Linked DNA regions of Homo sapiens. The protein of the gene in region 4 purifies or fractionates together with the protein of the main gene of each other region. This does not show direct contact. Each region holds a gene or a part of one and is shown on either strand. Other genes may lie near its edges. The genes, in order: MKLN1, GID4, RMND5A and SPON1.

Region 1 (4,420 bases), on a different chromosome or scaffold from region 4:
TTTTTATTAACTAAGGAAATCTTATGGTGGCATGGGTCATCTGTTTCGTTTTACTGTTGTAGCCTTAGCACCATGCTAGTCATATAAAAGATGCCCAGAAAATTCGTTGAATGAATCCTTATAAGGTTGAATAGTGCTTTTACTTTGCTAAAGTTTTATTTGAACTGTGTTAATATTTTTCTTCTTCTTTTTGTTTTTTCTCCTTAAAGTTCCACTCTTGTCCTGGGGACCCAGCTTTAACTTTAGCATCTGGTATGTTGAACTTAGTGGCATTGATGATCCTGATATAGTACAACCTTGTCTCAACTGGTATAGCAAGGTAGGACTGTGTTTTAAATCCTGACTTTAATGCCTATAAAAGGAGAAATATGTCAATCTCTTATCTTCATTGAGAATAATTTAAAATATTCAAAATAATAATAACAACAGTTAGCTAACATTTTATTAAGCACTTCCAGTCTGCCAGCTTTTAAGGAATCCTGATAACTCACTTAGTCATTATCACTCTATGAGACAGGTGCACTTATTATCCCCATTAGTTTATAGATGAAGAAATGAAGAACAGAGAGATTAAATAGTTTGCCTAGGATCACACAATTGTAAAGTGTTTGAGCCAGTATATGAATTCAGGCAGTTTGGCTCCACAGTCTGCTTTTATGTTATTATACCCATTTGACTCTGAATTTTGTTTTTTCACTTGTATTCATATAAATACTTAAAACATAGTTTTTAGTGGGATAGTTTTGCAGCCTAATGGAAAATTTAAGATGTGGATGTGATTTAGACTCCTAAAGTAGTCAACAGGGTTAAAAAATACTGCTGTTTAATATAACTGTAATATATATTGTTACATGGTAGTTATGATAAGTCTTTTTTAGAGGCCAAGAGTAAGTTAATTATAGTTAACTAATTATAATTAAGTTGTTAATTAATTATAGTTAATTATAACGTGTAAGGATTAGGTGTTTAATGACCTTTTATTAGTTAAGTCAGCTATCAACTGATTTGTTTCAAATCTTATACATCTTCCTAAACACATTATTTTCTTGCCTTATTAAAGGGTCATGCCTATAAGTAAATCATTGTTGTTTGATTATCATGCAGGCTTCCATGTCATCTGTTTGTTTGAATAGTGGTATACTTAGGAAGTTTGAGGTAGTCCCAGAACATATTCCTGAAGTTGAGATTTTTTTAAAAAAATCCTTTTTATAAGATTGTATTTTTGGCATCTATCCTATTAGGGGAAAATTTTAATAAATTAAGTGCCTGCTTTTTGGATTCCAGTTAATTGAGATGTCTACTTTATAGCTGCTTAATAGATGAGGTAGTTCAGGCTTAGAAAACAATTAAATTGGGCCGGGCGCAGTGGCTCACACCTGTAATCCCAGCACTTTGGGAGACCAAAGTGGGCAGATTGCCTGAGGTCAGGAGTTCAAGACCATCCTGACCAACATGGTGAAACCCCGACTCTACTAAAAATACAAAAATTAGCTGGGCGTGGTAGCGCGTGCCTGTAAGCTCAGCTACTTAGGAGGCTGAGGCAGAATTGCTTGAACCTGGGAGGCGGAGGTTGCAGTGAGCTGAGATTATGCCGCTACAGTCCAGCCTGGGAGACAGAGCAAGACCCTGTCTCAAAAAAAGAAAGAAAAAAAAAAAGATTAAATGTCTCTTTTTGATGATTTTTGAGTCATAAAATGTGTTTGTAAATTTGAAATATCTGTATACTTGATACTTGTCATTCAAGTAATAGTTTATTTTTAAAAACCAAAAATAGCATAATATAATTTATGTGGATTATTTAATGTTCTTTTGTGCTCTCAGTACCTGCATTGTAATGGGATTAATAGATGCTATGGAGTTATAATTTTTACAGTATTAAGTGGAGTTTAAGAAATAGATGTTCTCCCTTTCTTCAAAGTTGAGGCTCTGGAATTAGGTTTGGTTTAATAACTTTTGGCTACATATTTTGTGACCTTGAGCAAGTTATTGGAACAGGCCAAGCTTTAGTTTTGCTAGTTAAAAGAGCCAAATAATGATACCTAATGAATCAGGTTAGTAAACTGCTTGGCACATAGTGTTAATAAATGCTCAGTGTAGATTAGTTATTTTTACTGTTGTTATTGTTTCCTACAGTATCATCTAACCAAATCTCTTCTTTCCATACTTACTCTGTGTTCTAGTAGTACCGTGAACAGGAAGCTATTCGCCTTTGCCTAAAACACTTCAGACAACACAACTATACAGAAGCTTTTGAGTCACTGCAAAAGAAAACCAAGATTGCACTGGAACATCCCATGTTAACAGATATTCATGACAAGCTGGTGTTGAAGGGTGATTTTGATGCTTGCGAAGAGTTGATTGAAAAGGCTGTAAATGGTATGAAACTTAGATTGGTTATTAGGGTAAATTCAAGTACATACGGGAAACTTTTTCTCAAAAATAATATAGGCTTATGCCAGTTATTACTGTAATTTTTTTTCTTGGTTTTTTACTCGGTTAAAGATTGTTATCTCTTTGGATTAGGGACTTCTTTCATGTAAAATAGATCCATGATGTAATGAGACTTAAAAAATTGAAATGTACTTGAACTCACATATAAATTTAAGTTGTCATCTTGGGAAACCATGCACTTACAAATGATTAACTAGCATTAAACTGTATCAGAAATAATATTTTGATATTGGTAGCCAATATTCATTAACAGTGTAGTTTTGAGGAGAAGGGGGGCTAGATAATAAAAAATGTTATTAGTAAACAATTATATATAAGGAACAAGGAGATTTGTATTGAAAACAACTTCCTTGTGGTGTGAATGCTATATAATTGCTGATTTTCTTGTGTGACCTGTAGTCTGGCTTTGAAAGAAATGTGAATAGTTGAACATCTGTATTATCTCCCAGGGTATTGGCTTTGGAGGGTAACACTCATTTGGATTTTTAAGGTCTGATGTGTTTTGTTATTTAAACTAAAAAGGGACTCTGTTGTTGCTTATAGTATGACTTTTTTTTTTAATCTTCCTCAGTAACTTTCATAGTGACAAACAACAGAATAGTTGCACAATATAAAACTTGTGGAATTGAATTTGGTGCATCCTTTATAGGAAGAAATAAGAAATAATAGATTATTCAGTGGTTTGCTCTCATTTTAATTTTATCACTGTTATTATCGTCTATTATTAGGTATTCATATTTATCAGATATTGGGTAGCTAAAAAAAAACCAGACTTGTACTGCCTTGAGTTTATAAATTTAAAGTTAACTTAAAATGAATTGCTTTGAGCTCCACTTTTTGAAATATGACAAATCTGCTTCTAAGCCTTGTGCATTGTTATTGCTTACTTGATTGATGATGATACTTGCAAATAAATGATAGGTATGTTTGAAATTGAGTATATTTTGGAGTATAAACAAACAAATAACTAATCTCTTAACAGACTTTAAAATGCTACCAATAAAAAAAAAATATATATATATATATATATATGCCATTTCTAGGAGTGAATTCTGTGGGTTTTTTTTAACCTCATAAGATGAGGGAGGCATAGGTAATTTTAGGGCTTTTTTGTTTGTTTCAGATATTTATCAGTAAGGCATTTGATACCATTTTGTGAAGGGAAAGCAAAACAACAGCCACAGGCAACTCTACAGTTAATAAGCTAAAAACAGTTATATTTTAAAGGTCTCTTTAGTGACGTACTCAGTTGGTTAAGATTAGCTGATAAAAATCTTGTGCAGTTTTGATATCTACAGAGACTTAACTTATCCTTTGGCTCTAGAAAGGAACCAAGTTTAGAGAAATTAGTAGTTGCTCAATTCTTGAAACTTACAGCCACATCATAGTTTTTGTACTGTGAATACTATGGGCTTTCTAAACTGGCCTGGAACACTGTTAGTTAATAAACATTCCTTTCAGGGTTGTTCTCTTTGCTTCTGATCTCATTGATGATGATTTGTTGGACAAATAAGGAAGTAAACAGTGCAGAGTTTTTTGGCTTCTGCTCTATTAAAAACATAGCAGAGAAGGACAAGAAGTTCCTGCCTGCTAAATAGGAAGATCTAGGGAATCAAAAGAGTCTCTGTCAAGCTTCTTGTAATGGAGGATACAAAAGCTACTTTTAGTATTTTTAGTATATTACTTAGTATGATCTTTAAGTATTTTCTGTATTTTAAGAAAGTGTAAGGCTCTATTTATTTCTGTAATAGGCTTTTTGTTTGTCTAGAAACATCACTGTATTTACATTTCATTTTATTAGAGGTGATTTTGGAACCAATAATTGCTACTACCTCTTTGCCCATGCAGGATCCAGTGATGATAGGCAAAAGTAATCACCTAGGGACAGGAATGTTTTACTCAGACATGTAGAGATTGTACTGAAATCCACCCTTTGCTGAGCTTATCTTATTTGCTATAGAAAGAAAAA
Region 2 (4,420 bases), on a different chromosome or scaffold from region 4:
GTTCTTTAAGCCTCTTAGTTAATTGGAACAATGAAAAGTTACTGACTGGTCGCGGTGGCTCATGCCTGTAATCGCAACACTTTGGGAGCCTGAGGTGTGCAGATCACTTGAGGTAGGGAGACCAGCCTGGCCAACATGGTGAAACCCCATCTCTACTAAACATAAAAAAAAAAAATTAGCCGGGCATGGTGGCACAGACCTGTAGTTCCAGGTACTTGGGAGTCTGAGGCACAGAGAATCACTTGAACCAGAGAGGCAGAGGTTGCAGTGAGCCAAGATCACCATGCACTCCAACCTGGGCAACAGAGCAAGACCCTGTCTCAAAAAAAAAAAAAAAGAAAGAAAAAAAAGGGGAAGTGACCATCTAGTTTCCAGCAGAAGTACCTGCTGTGCAGAGTATTTTATTTTCTTTGAACCAAGTTTTTAAACCTCAGAACTCCTGGGACTTTAGAAAGCAAGGAGGAGCATCCTTTCTTTTCCATTAGCAAGGAAACAGGAAGTGGAAGGAGGTAGCTGGACTGGCCCTCCGAATGCTGGGAATGCCCAGGCTGGACCTAGCTGCAGGGGGCCTCTGGCCTTTGTCAGCTCTCATGGTCTGATGATCCAGCAGTATTTGGACAGAGTGCTGTGCTGGATGGGGCAGTGGAAAGGAGCTGGGGTGGCATTCTTCTTCTGCCCCTTCCTGCATCTGTGACCTTTAACTTCTTTCAGTGTCCTCATCTGCGAAGTTGAGAATTAAAAATTCCTGCTCCAGGCTGGGTGCTGTGGCTCACACCTGTAATCCCAACATTTTGGGAGGTCAAAGCAGGAGGATCACTTGGGGCCAGGAATTCAAGACCAGCCTGGACAGCATAGCAAGACCTTGTCGCTACAAATAATTTTTAATAAATTAGCCAGGCATGGTGTTGTGTGCCTGTAGTCCTAGCTACTCAGAAGACTGAGGCTGGAGTATCGCTTGAGGCTAGGATTTGAAGGCAGCAATGTGCTGTGATCATGCCTGTGAATAGCCACTGCACTCCAGCCTGGGCAACCTAGGAAGATCCTCTCTCTTTAAAAAAAAAAAAAATTGGGGTCGGGCGTGGTGGCTCACACCTGTAATCCCAGCACTTTGGGAGGCTGAGGTGGATGGATCACCTGAGGTCAGGAGTTCAAGACCAGCCTGGTCAACATGGTGAAACCCCATCTTTACTAAAAATATAAAAATTAGCTGGGCATGTTGGCAGGCACCTGTAATTCCAGCTACTCAGGAGGCTGAGGCAGGAGGATCGCTTGAACCCGGGAGGCGGAGGTTGCAGTGAGCCAAGATTGCACCATTGCGCTCCAGCCTGAGCAACAAGAGCGAAACTTTGTCTCAAAAAAAAAAAAAAAAAAAAAAATCCCTGCTCTGTCTAAGACAATCAGTGGACTTGTTCTGGGGGTAAGGAAAGAATGTTAGAGAAAATGACAGACTCAAATATGGTACTAATATGTGATTCTCTTGTAAAGTCCTGATGAGCCTCAGTCTTAAGACAAGTTTCTGGCTCCTGGTTCCTATCTGCTTTTCTATTAGAAGCTTAACTGATTAAGGATCTCCTATGAAGTTTGTTGTTGAGACCAAAGGTATTTCTTCTTTAACTCGAGAATTGTATCAAATCAAGTAGGAGTAGAAGTGATAGCAAAATACAGGATTCCAGCCTTTGGGTTTGTGGTAGGAGAAAAGATACTAAAACAGAATATGCTCAACTCTCAGGTAGCCAAATACATTAGTTAACTGGGTGCAGAACATAAACACTGAATTTCATAAGGAAACCAGCAAGTGTGTAAGGCATTGGAATGTTAACGCTGACTCCAAAACCAGTCATTTGGGTGATAACAAGCTGCACAGAAATGGTAAGTAGCATTCGAAATCTTGAAGAAGTATACAGAAATGCTAATGGCATTGAGCTCTCCATCGGGAACAAGTAGCCCTTCCTTTAGGAAGCCCCCGTGAGTCGAGAGCAGCAGTCAGGCTCCTTTGAGGAGGGGGCACTGACAATGGCCCTTCAATGGGGGCTAACCCAAGGGGAGCCCTAGGCTCTTAACAGAACCTCTGCAGATGGCGTGGCCTCGATGAGCACATACCCTCCCCAGAGTTGCCTGTTCCTGGTCCAGCAATAAATAGACCACGTTATGCTGCTGCAGGGGTGTTGCGTTAAAGCAAGTCCTGCTCAGGCCTTAGATGTAGAAGAATTCTTTTTAAATAATGTTTTTTAGTAGCTTTATTGAGATAATTCACATACCATACATTTCACCCATTTGAAGTATACAGTTCATTGGTTTTTAGTGTATTCACAAAGTTGTGCAACTATGTGATAACTTTTTTTTTTTTTTGAGATGGAGTCTCGCTCAGTCACCCAGGCTGGAGTGCAGTGGTGCAATCTCGGCTCACTGCAAGCTCCGCCTCCTGGGTTCACGCCATTCTCCTGCCTCAGCCTCCCGAGTAGCTGGGACTACAGGTGCCCGCCACCACACCCGGCTAATTTTTTTGTATTTTTAGTAGAGATGGGGTTTCACCGTGTTAGCCAGGATGGTCTCGATCTCCTGACCTCATGATCCGCCTGTCTCGGCCTCCCATAGCGCTGGGATTACATGTGTGAGCCACCACGCCTGGCCGATAACTTTTTTTTTTTGAGACAGAGTCTCAGTCACCCAGGCTGGAGTGCAGTGGTGTGATCTCACCTTACCACAACCTCTGCCTCCCAAGTTCAAGCGATTCTCCTGCCTCAGCCTCCCGAGTAGCTGGGATTACAGGCGTGCGCCACCCTGCCCAACTAACTTTTATTTTTAGTAGAGACAGGGTTTCGCCATGTTGGCCAGACTGGTCTCGAACTCCTGACCTCAAATGTCCACCCTCCTTGGCCTCCCAAAGTGTTGGGATTACAGGCGTGAGCCAACGCACCCAGCCTGATAACTTTTAAAATTATAAGTCTAGTATATGGTTGCCGTAGATAATAGTAAAATGCAGAAAACTACAATGAATCTTTGAATAAATTTTGTACCTGTATTTGGGTTTTTTTTCTTTTCCATTTATGTTTGTTAAAATATCAATTTTTTATTTTTATTTTTTGTTTTTGAGGAAGAGTCTTGCTCTGTCACCCGGGCTGGAGTGCAGTTGTGTGATCTCAGCTCACTGCAACTTCCACCTCCCAGGTTCAAGCAATTCCCATGCCTCAGCCTCCCGAGTAGCTGGAATTACAGGCATGTGCCACCACACCTGGCTAATTTTTATATTTTTAGTAGAAATGGGGTTTTACCATGTTGGCCAGGCTGGTCTTGAACTCCTGACCTCAGATGAACCACCCACCTTGGCCTCCCAAAGTGCTGGGACTACAAGCATGAGCCACCGTGCCTGGCAAAAATATCAAATTTTTAATTTATTTTAATTAAACTATAATTTGGGTTTTAGTCATAGTAGTTGCCTTCCTCACGTATACAGTATGGAAAAGTATCTACTAAAATGGAGATAGGCCAGGCACAGTGGCTCATGCCTGTAATCCCAGCACTTTGGGAGGCTGAGGCAGCTGGATCGCCTGAGGTCAGGAGTTTGAGACCAGCTTGGACAACATGGTGAAACCCCATCTCTACTAAAAATACAAAAATTAGCTGGACATGGTGGCGGGCACCTGTAATCCCAGCTACTCAGGAGGCTGAGGCAAGAGAATCGCTTGAACCCAGGAGGCAGAGTTTGTGGTGAGTTCAGATCATGCCACTGGACTCCAACCTCGGCAACAGAGTGAGACTTCGTGTCAAAAAAAAAAAAAAAAGGAGATAAGTGTCAAAAAAAAAAAAAAGGAGCTAAATGGCCTCTTAGCTACCTCACATTCACAAACAAGCACAGCTTTTTTGTTTGTTTGTTTTAATTTTTATTTTAGGCTTGGGTGTACATGCGCAGGTTTGATCTATAGATAAACTTATGTCACGGTTTACCTATGTAACTGTTGTGGAGATTATTTTGTCACCCAGGTATTAAGCCTAGTACTGAATAGTTATTTCTTCTGCTCCTCTCCCTTCTCCTACCCTCTACCCTCAAGTAGGCCCCATTGTCTGTTCTTCCCTTCTTTTTTTTTTTGAGATGAAGTCTCGCTCTGTTGCCCAGGCTTGAGTGCAGTGGTGCAATATCTGCTCACTGCAACCTCTGCCTCCCAGGTTCAAGCAGTTCTCCTGCTCAGCTTCCCAGGTAGCATGTACCACCACACCAGGCTAAATTTTTTTTTGTACTTTTGGTAGAGATGGGGTTTCACCATGTTGGCTAGGCTGGTCTTGAACTCTTGACCTCAGGTGATTTGCCTGCCTCAGCCTCCCAAAGTGCTGGGATTACAGGCTTGAGCCTATTGTTTCCTTCTTTGAGCCCATGAGTTCTCATCATTTAGCTCCTACTTATAAGGGCAGTATTTGGTTTTCT
Region 3 (4,420 bases), on a different chromosome or scaffold from region 4:
ATGTGTGAAACAAGGTTTTTTTTCATTTACCTCAACCAGAAGAACGTATCACAATAGATTTAATGCAGAGTAAACTATAAGAATCCAGCTGTCTTTCTGTTAAGGTAGGCATTCAGGAGAGTTGTGAGAGTTTGGAACAGTGCCACTCTTCTCACACATATATTTTTGTTTTGGAAACTGTAGTTATTTTTTTATAAGAATGTTTGCAATAATGGCATGGTATTTTATTTTTACATGAACTAATCGGCACCTTTTATGTTTCTCATTTTAATTTCTAATGTATTAAAGATATAATCCACAAAAAGAAAAGCTCTTTGAGATCCTTAATACTTAAGCATATAAAGGGGTCCTGAAACCAAAACATTTTAAGAAACTGTTGTAAGAAAATAACTCTTTTTTAGCTCTTCTATTCATTTAATTCCACAAATGTTTTGCATACCTGCTATGTGCCAGGCACTGTGGGCACTGTGTTGGATATGAAGATGAATAAGGTGCATTCCACAGGGTGCTCCATCCTAGCGTAGGAGTGGACAGATGCAATTAGCTATAATGTGAGGCGCTGATGCCATCAAGTTCTCTGAGGAAGACTCTAAAGTGGGAATGTACATGCAGAAAGTTTACTGACATCAGCACCTGTGGGAGAATGAAAACAGCAGGATTGGGCAGAGAGGAAAGTTGGACTGTATTAGAGTGGCAACAAGGTGTCTCCCATCCGTGAGGAGCTCTGGAGCTGCTGTGGGCCCGTGGAGTTGTCCCAAATTGGGCCTATAGGGCTGGGGTTTTGTACCCTCACATGGAGCAATTGCTGGATGTGACTCTGGTCAGATGACTCTCTTCAACTGAGGACAGTCCTGAAGAGACGGACACAGCTGAGAGTTGGCTGCCAACACTTCCAGATCTGAGAAATGAGTGCTTCCACCCTGGACAGGGGTGATCTGGGGATAAGAGGAACTATGCAAAAAAAATGTTTCAGGAGCAAGCATGTCATTTGACTGATAAGCTGAGCCCATTAAATCCAGTTGTTTTGTGCAATATAAAACCTTTTTTGGCACTAATGTAAGATTATTATGAAATTCTTTATATTTTACTTTTTGAAACAGGGTCTCATTCTGTTGCCCAGGTTGGAGTGCAGTGGCACGATCGTGGCTCACTGCAGCCTCAACCTCCTGGCATCCTCCCACCTCAGCCTGCTCAGTAGCTGGGACTCTAGGCACATGCTACCATACCTGGCTAATGGCTAATTTTTATATCTTTTGTAGAGACGGGGGTCTCACTGTGTTTCCCAGGCTGGTCTCAAACTCTCAAACTTAGGTAATCCTCCCACCTTGGCCTCCCAAAGTGCTGCAATTACAGGAGTGAGCCACCACCATCTGCTGTTATTAAATTCTCTAAAAACCTTATTCTCAATTCTGTACTTCTTTCCTGTGGATTGAAAATGGTGTGTAAATCAGCACCATCTGCAGACCACATTTTGAGTATCATTGTTCTAATTAGCGTATACCTTGGAGCACATTTTGTAAGAAAAATAAGTCTGGTGGTATATGGTCTGTAAGGAAGGGAATAGGAAAGGAAGTTATGTCTTGTATATTGCTGAGTGAAGAATTTTGTGCAAGAACATCTCTTTTTCCTTCAAACTCAGATGCTAAAACTACTGTATTTGGAAGAGTGTAGTAGTTCTTAATTCCTGCTCTTCATTTGAATTAATTGGTTCTCCAAAGCTGCTTTCTTTTTTAAAATGCATGTTTTAAAACTTTATTTTTCTATTTTCTGAGGAAGTAAGCTAAAGTTAAATTACCCTAGCAGATGAGTTTTTTTTTTTTAACGTTTGCGTTCTTTAACTGCATTTACCCCCATATTGGTGAGGTTTATTTAGAAAATTTAGAGTTTTATTTTTTGTTTTGTTTTTTAACTGGGATTGGTTTTCAGTAACTTCAGGAAATATACCAGTGGGCCTGGGGAAGAAGGGGAGGGAAAACAAGTTATTTCTCTTCTAGTGGAAATGGCTGGATTTACTTTTAGCAGAACAGAAAGCTCTCACCCTGTCCAGTGGCCAGGGTCTGCAGCACATAGAGTCTGGAGAAATTGATGTCTCCTTGGACCAAGCGGCCTGACCCCTGGCCTGGCACTGACGTTTCCTCTTCTGCTCTCCCAGTTTCTCAGCAGGTTGTGTGGCGCTGCCAGCTTTAATTAACATCAAAGCCGTGATTGAACAGAGGCAGTGTACTGGAGTTTGGAACCAGAAAGATGAATTACCTGTGAGTTCCATTTTCTATTGGCTATTTACTTTTACTGCCATTAGAAGAATATGGCATCTTTAAATGTTCATCTTACCTTTTAACCAGGAAACATTGTAGCCATTTGACAGGAGTTCTTTTATGGATATATAAAAGATTAAACAATACAAATGAAGAGCCTAGTACATTTTGGGGACCCTGGAGGAGGAGTATTATAATTTTGACTTGAAGTGCCTTTGAAAGCTGGTGAAGGGAAACATCAGAAGTGGGGAGGGCTGTACATACAGTAGCAGGCAGTGTGTTCTGCAGTGCAGTTCACAGACCACTCCTGTGATTGTTTTTCTAATATAAACGCAAATTTAATTGGTTTTACTTTTGTCTTAACTATTGCTGTCGATAAGATCACGAGTTTGTGCTGGTTACATTTGCCAATAGAATAAGTATAGAGCTCTTAAAGGTCGTAACACCTGCAGTCATCAGTGGGTCTCTAGTACTGTATTTCTACTGCTCTCATGGAAAGGACCATGGTTTTAAACATCAGCACGATCACTTGCCAACTCTAGAACTTCTCTAAGCAGTAGTGTATTCATCTCTAAGACAAGCACCAGCTTTCTCTTTATGGGGCTGCTGAAGGCTAGAGATAACATAAGCATGCTTAGAATAAGACGGGATACATGGTAGGCACTCAAATTGTGGCTGCCATGGTGCAGTTATGATGTGAAGTGGCGAAGGTCATTGTATGTATGTTTCCACCAGGTCTCTGACAGGCACTGAGGCTCTGGCCTGGAATTGTCGTTCCTGTCATGATTGTGTCACAGACCCTGAAAAGCTAACATACGCATTTGTTTTTTTGCCCGTTTTATACCACACCTGTACACGGGTTTATTTGCAGTTACCTTGTTCTTCCAGCAGGTAACCCTGTCAGTTGGTTGCCCCAGCTTCTCCTCAAAGATCTTTTCTGATTAAAGGCACAGGTGCAGTCCTGGTCCTGAGTGTGGTCAGGACACAAGTAGCACTCCTGCTCTACTGCCGCTAACTTGAACAAGTGAAAAGAACTTGAGCCTTCACTTGTTTTGTGGAGGCAGGTGCCTGGCATCTGGCAGTTTCCCATTTATGTTGTAAGCATCTCTGACATGCACTAAGAGCAGACTGAAATCTGAATTCACCTAAAGACTGTGTGTCAAGCCAGTAAAGCCATTAGAGGTGGTGATCAGGTCATTGTTTGTCAGACTTGTTTTTACACTTTGTCAGCTTTCTTGAAAATAATCTTGAAGGCTAATTTAACACTTTGAATCACTAAGACTGTCCATCTGAGTTAGAAGAGTGCTATAGAAAGTTACATTCAGGTGAATAGATCTGATCAATGTTCTTTGCTGCACAGTGTATATTACCATGTGGATGGTTTTGTGAAATATGACTTCAGCTTTTTTACTTTTTTTTTTTTTTTTAACAGATTGAAGTGGACCTTGGTAAAAAGTGCTGGTATCACTCTATATTTGCCTGCCCCATTCTTCGTCAGCAAACAACAGATAACAATCCACCCATGAAATTGGTCTGTGGTCATATTATATCAAGAGATGCCCTGAATAAAATGTTTAATGGTAGCAAGTAAGTGTCTGACTTTTAAAAAATGTTAGCAAATAAATTTTGTTTTGGAACTTGGTAGGAGGATAAGAAGTGATGAGGATTAAAAAAATGTAGCTAGATTTAGAACTAAATAAATTTCTTAACTATTCATTTGGCAAAGTTGGTGGTATCTGATTTGAGTATTTTTAATGTGTCTATGGATTTGGTGATTAGATTTATAAGCATGTCTTTAACTTAACTTTTGGGGTAGGTGATAGATTTTCCCCTTTTTTATACAAATGGTCGCATACTAAAAAATGTTCTGTACTTTGCTGTTTTCACTTAGTGATGTATTTTGGAGATCTTTTTCTGTGCTGCAGAAACAGCCCTCATTATTTTTTTGTTAAAGCTGCAGTATATTCTACTGTATAGAAATATGATTGGGTAGCCAGTTCCCTATTGATGAACATTTGTTTCTCTAAACAGTGCTAAGTGAAGGCCAGGTGTGGTGGCTTATGCCTGTAATCCCAGCACTGTGGGAGGCCGAGGCAGGCGGATCACGAGGTCAGGAGATTGAGACCATCCTGGCTAACACGGTGAAATCCCATCTCTACTAAAAA
Region 4 (4,420 bases):
CCGTTGGCAAAAATTCAGTCATGTGGTCATACCTAGCTGCAAGGAAGGCTGGGAAATATAGCATTTAGCTGGGTAGCCACATGCCCAGCTAAAACTTGAAGAATTTATTTTTCAAAAAGATGAAACAAAGTAAATTTCTAAGGATCATATTAACGGTCTCTGTCACATATTTTCATGCATAGTCATGTAAAAACACAATATATCTTACTTTCTCAGTGAAAGGTCAGCTAGGTGGGTCAACTTGACAACATATAAACTGATGTTCCTGCTAAGAATCAGCAGAGGAAGCCAGATGCAGTGGCTCACACCTGTAACCTCAACACTTTGGGAGGCTGAGACAGGTGGATTGCTTAACCCCAGGAGTTCAAAATCAGCCTGGACAATATGGCAAAACCCATCTCTACAAAAAAAAAAAAAAAAAAAAATTAGCTGGCTGTGGTGTCTCATACCTGTAGACCCAGCTACTCAGGAGGCTGAGGCAGGAGGATCTCTTGAGCTGGAGAAGTTGAGGCTGCAGTGAGTGAAGATTGTGCCAGTGCACCCAGCCTGGGCGACAAAGTGAGACCCTGTCTCAAAAGAAGGGAAAAAGAGCAGAGGCAGGAGTGCTGGGGTGTGTATGTGCAAGCTTATGTTGTGGCTTGTTTTGTCTCATTCTCCTTTCTCAATAAAAGAGGAAGCAGCAAAGAATGAAAGGAATGAGGGTAAGGTAAATCAAGAAAACAAAGGGGTGGTGTGGGAAGAGAAAAAGAAAAATGAAAACCCACTGGGGTATACATTCAGAATGAAAATGAAAGAAAATATTTGAGTATGGCAGAGTCCCATTAGGATGGGACTACAGGGCTAGATACAAGAAGAGCCATGGAAAGCAAACATCACATAAGTCAAAATTAGTCCTTTGAAATTATACGTAAGATATAACCCAGATACCAGCTTCAACCTAGCCTTATCTAAACACCCTACCCCCAATATTCCTGTAAGTGAGGAATAGAAACGAATTGGCATGTATCAATAAGTCTAGCCCTTCTAGTTTCCCTCCAGCATTGGAAGAGAGCAATGTTTCCTCAGTTGAGTAGCAGATAAACCCTTGGTTTGCTCTGACATGCAAGTACAAAATCTTCATCATGTGATGGAGTAAGGGAGCTGAGAGGCTCATCTCATGCTCACTCAGGCACATGCATGCATTGAATGGAGTAGCAAGTGGCCCAAATCATTTAAAGCATTACATTCTCTGTTTTTTCTCCTCCAATAGTGTGCAGTTGTGTTTGATTTTTACCAAATGCACCTCTCTTGGAGCATCTATGGTGTCAGGAAGCTTGCTATATCACATAAAAAGCTTTTTGTGATGCTTGTCAGCTCCTGCTGGTATAAAATGCCCCACTTTTACAGAATGTTTTGGCAGGGATGGAGTTGGGGTGCAGATAGGACAGGGCAAGGAGTTAAGTGAGACCACTAGAAGTCCTTTGTGAGGTCTATGTAGAGCAGGCTTCTACCTTTCGCAGAATATTCATAAATTCCATGAAATGTTCAGGAAAACTTAAGGGACCTACCCACATCCACTGATTTTCTTGAGGCTAGGAGACCCATAGGAAATAACTTGAACCCTCTCTACAGTTGTGGTTGAGATATTTGCCAATATGTCTCATGGACTGGGTGAGAGAAACAGGGAAGAGTTCCAAGAACAAGTCACCATCTGTGGGGCAGGAGTGTGGGCAGGTGGGCACAGTCACAGCAGGATGAACCAAATGGTGATTCTAGGTGCTACAGGAAGCTCTTTTCTCCTCCTCTTCCTCCTCCTCCTCCTTGTCCTCCCCCCAACTCCTGCCAACACTATCCTTTGAATTTTCCAAATACACTAAGCTCATTCGCTCCCCAGGGCCTTCATCCTTGCTCTTCATGCCTGGGATGGTTGTCCTCAGATCTTTGCATGGCTGACTCCTTGTCTTTTAAGGGAATCTCTTTAAAGAGGCTGCTCTCACTACCAATTTATGTTTCCCGTCACTTTCGCCTGATTTTGTTTTCTTCATAGCCTTAAACACTCTCTGAAATTCTCTCGTTTATTGTCTGCCTCCTACAGCTAGAATACAAGCTTTATGAGAGCAAAGACTTTGTCTTTCTTATTTGCCATTTTATCTTCAATTCCCAGAACAGTGCCTGGGCATAGCAGGCATTAAATCATTATTTGTTGAAAAAAATAAAGTATCATTGAAGCCCCAAGAACCCTGGTGTGAGCTCTCTAAGAGAGCTGGATGGAGGAAGGGGAAGGTATTTCTCTCTCAGCCAGAGAGAAAGGTGAGCACCCAAGGGATGGCAGACAGGAGGCAAGGAGCTCCAGGTGGTGGCAGCAGAGAGAAAGGATGCCAGTGCCACAGGGGCGTTGGCCAGAGGCTGAGGGCAGATGGCCTGTGTCCAGAGTGCAGACCACTGGGAGGGAAGAGAGAGCAGTTGCATCATGGTGGAAGCTGAAACGCTGCTGCTGTGGCATGAAAAGCAGAGCAACAGCAGGCAAAAGGGCAGAGGCAAGGGGCTGCCAACCTCAGAAACTGGCTCTGAGAAACTGGCTCTGAGTATCTGGAGAAGTAGGCCTGAGGGGATTATTGAGCCATCAAACCTAGACATCAATTATTAAAGTGACATTCCCTAGAACCAGCACATTGTGGAGTCATTTGTAGTACTTTCCAAACCTAGCTATGCCTTTGGAGAGTGTAAAAACTAAACTAAAATTTAATTTAATAAAAAAACTTCCTGGGCCCCACCCTAACAAAAGGCTGGATTCCAGGAATCTTATATTCTTCTTTCTTTTTTCACTCTTTTAAAGGAAAATGATGAGACACAAAGAAAAGGTGGCCCTTTTCCTATGAGCATGCTTCCCCATCACCACCTCTCCTAGCCCCAGCCCCAGCCTCCCACACACTTTAGCACCTGGTCACATCATTGCCCTATCCTGTTACTATGGGACACACTCATTTAGTGACCAGTGGAATATCCTCAAAGCCAACATGACTGCAACATTTCCCGCTTGGCAGTAGGGTGATGGGGAGAAGAGAACCATGAGTTTTCCTTAGGTGGCCACAATCACAGACTGGCGAAGCTTGAGCCAGGGCTGACTTGCTTGTACTTCTCTGCCACCAAAGTCTGCCTACCATGTAACTTTCACACATCTGTCCAAGGTTCTGTCCTTTGGAATCAAGGAAAATAAGGTCTCCCCTGGGCCATATGTCAGCCCTTGAGATGTTTGTGAATAAATAGCTGTCATGGCTTCTCTTCTGACTAAAATGCCCCATTTCTTTAACCATTCTTTGTGGGTTGCAGTTGCTTGCTCCCTTGTACTTTGTGCCCCAGATGTGGTCTGTTAGGGGCAGGACATGATAGAATGATTATCTCCTTGTCCTGGACATTGTGGTTGTGTGAAGCTTGCCAGGTCTTGTGTTTGCTATTTTGGCAGCTGTGCCGTAGTCTGGAATCACACTGAGCTTGCAGCCAACTCAAATTCTTGCAATTTTCTGGAAGGCCTGCTTCCCTCTTTAACCTAGACTGGTGAAAATGGTCCTTGAACATAAAATTTGACATGGTTTATCGTTAGATTTAATCCAGCATGTTTGGATCCATCCCTGTAGCTGTCAGCCATTCATGAATCTGTATTTGGTCCCTGAGTGATTTATTCACATAATCTAATTTTGGATTATGCACAGTGTTGATAAGAAGGTCTTGTAAGTCTTTATCAATGAAGTTGATAAGAATATTGAGCAACTCAGAGTCTAGGATAGAGCCCTCTGACATTCCTTAGAGTCTTTCTCTAAAGCTGATATTTAGCTAAATAGTTTTGAAGTCAAGAGATCTGCTGTCATCCCAATGACATTTACATACCAACTGCCACCCCCAGCATAAGCCACCTCAGTTTAGTTCTGAATACTGTTTCCTGAGCCTGCTGGTGATTCTTGTAGTTTAGGCAGAGTGTTTTCTTTCTTTGCTTCAAAATTAGTCAGGACTCTTTCCACTGCAAGTGATAGGAACAAAGTCAACCTAACTAAAGCAGAAAAGGGAATGCACTGATTCCCATATTTGCAAAGCCCAGGGGTGGCTCTTGCTTCAGGCATAAATGGGTCTAGTGACTCAAATGGGGTCATTCCATCTCTCTCTCTCTCTCTGTCCCCCGTTCCCTCCTTCGCTCTATCTTTTTGTCCCTCGCTTCTACCTTCTCTGTCTTGCTCCTTCCATCCTCAATCTCTTGGCTGTGTTTTGCCCTCATTTTTTCTTACTACAGATAAACTTTCTCCAAATGACAGGGAGGATAGCTGCCAGCAACCTTCAGTGAAAATCCTCTTAGCTCATCCTGTGACTAAAAGAAAAGCCCCTTTCCTTCTAACTACAAACTGAAACATCCCAGGGAAGATTGTGATTAGTCCAGTATGGGTCACATGGC

Evidence for each region.
Region 1: the proteins of SPON1 (region 4) and MKLN1 purify together in Homo sapiens (affinity purification with mass spectrometry; one large-scale study listed by BioGRID and IntAct). This does not show direct contact.
Region 2: the proteins of SPON1 (region 4) and GID4 purify together in Homo sapiens (affinity purification with mass spectrometry; one large-scale study listed by BioGRID and IntAct). This does not show direct contact.
Region 3: the proteins of SPON1 (region 4) and RMND5A purify together in Homo sapiens (affinity purification with mass spectrometry; one large-scale study listed by BioGRID and IntAct). This does not show direct contact.

What each region holds. Positions count from the first base shown.
Region 1 is NC_000007.14:131,397,058-131,401,477, forward strand, and holds part of MKLN1 (muskelin), read left to right. Parts: intron 1-209; coding exon 210-319; intron 320-2,180; exon of another isoform or gene 2,181-2,183; coding exon 2,184-2,376; intron 2,377-4,420. UniProt on the Homo sapiens protein: Component of the CTLH E3 ubiquitin-protein ligase complex that selectively accepts ubiquitin from UBE2H and mediates ubiquitination and subsequent proteasomal degradation of the transcription factor HBP1.
Region 2 is NC_000017.11:18,045,570-18,049,989, forward strand, and holds part of GID4 (glucose-induced degradation protein 4 homolog), read left to right. Parts: intron 1-4,420.
Region 3 is NC_000002.12:86,767,871-86,772,290, forward strand, and holds part of RMND5A (E3 ubiquitin-protein transferase RMND5A), read left to right. Parts: intron 1-2,152; coding exon 2,153-2,255; intron 2,256-3,687; coding exon 3,688-3,842; intron 3,843-4,420.
Region 4 is NC_000011.10:13,968,812-13,973,231, forward strand, and holds part of SPON1 (spondin-1 precursor), read left to right. Parts: intron 1-4,420. UniProt on the Homo sapiens protein: Cell adhesion protein that promotes the attachment of spinal cord and sensory neuron cells and the outgrowth of neurites in vitro. May contribute to the growth and guidance of axons in both the spinal cord and the PNS.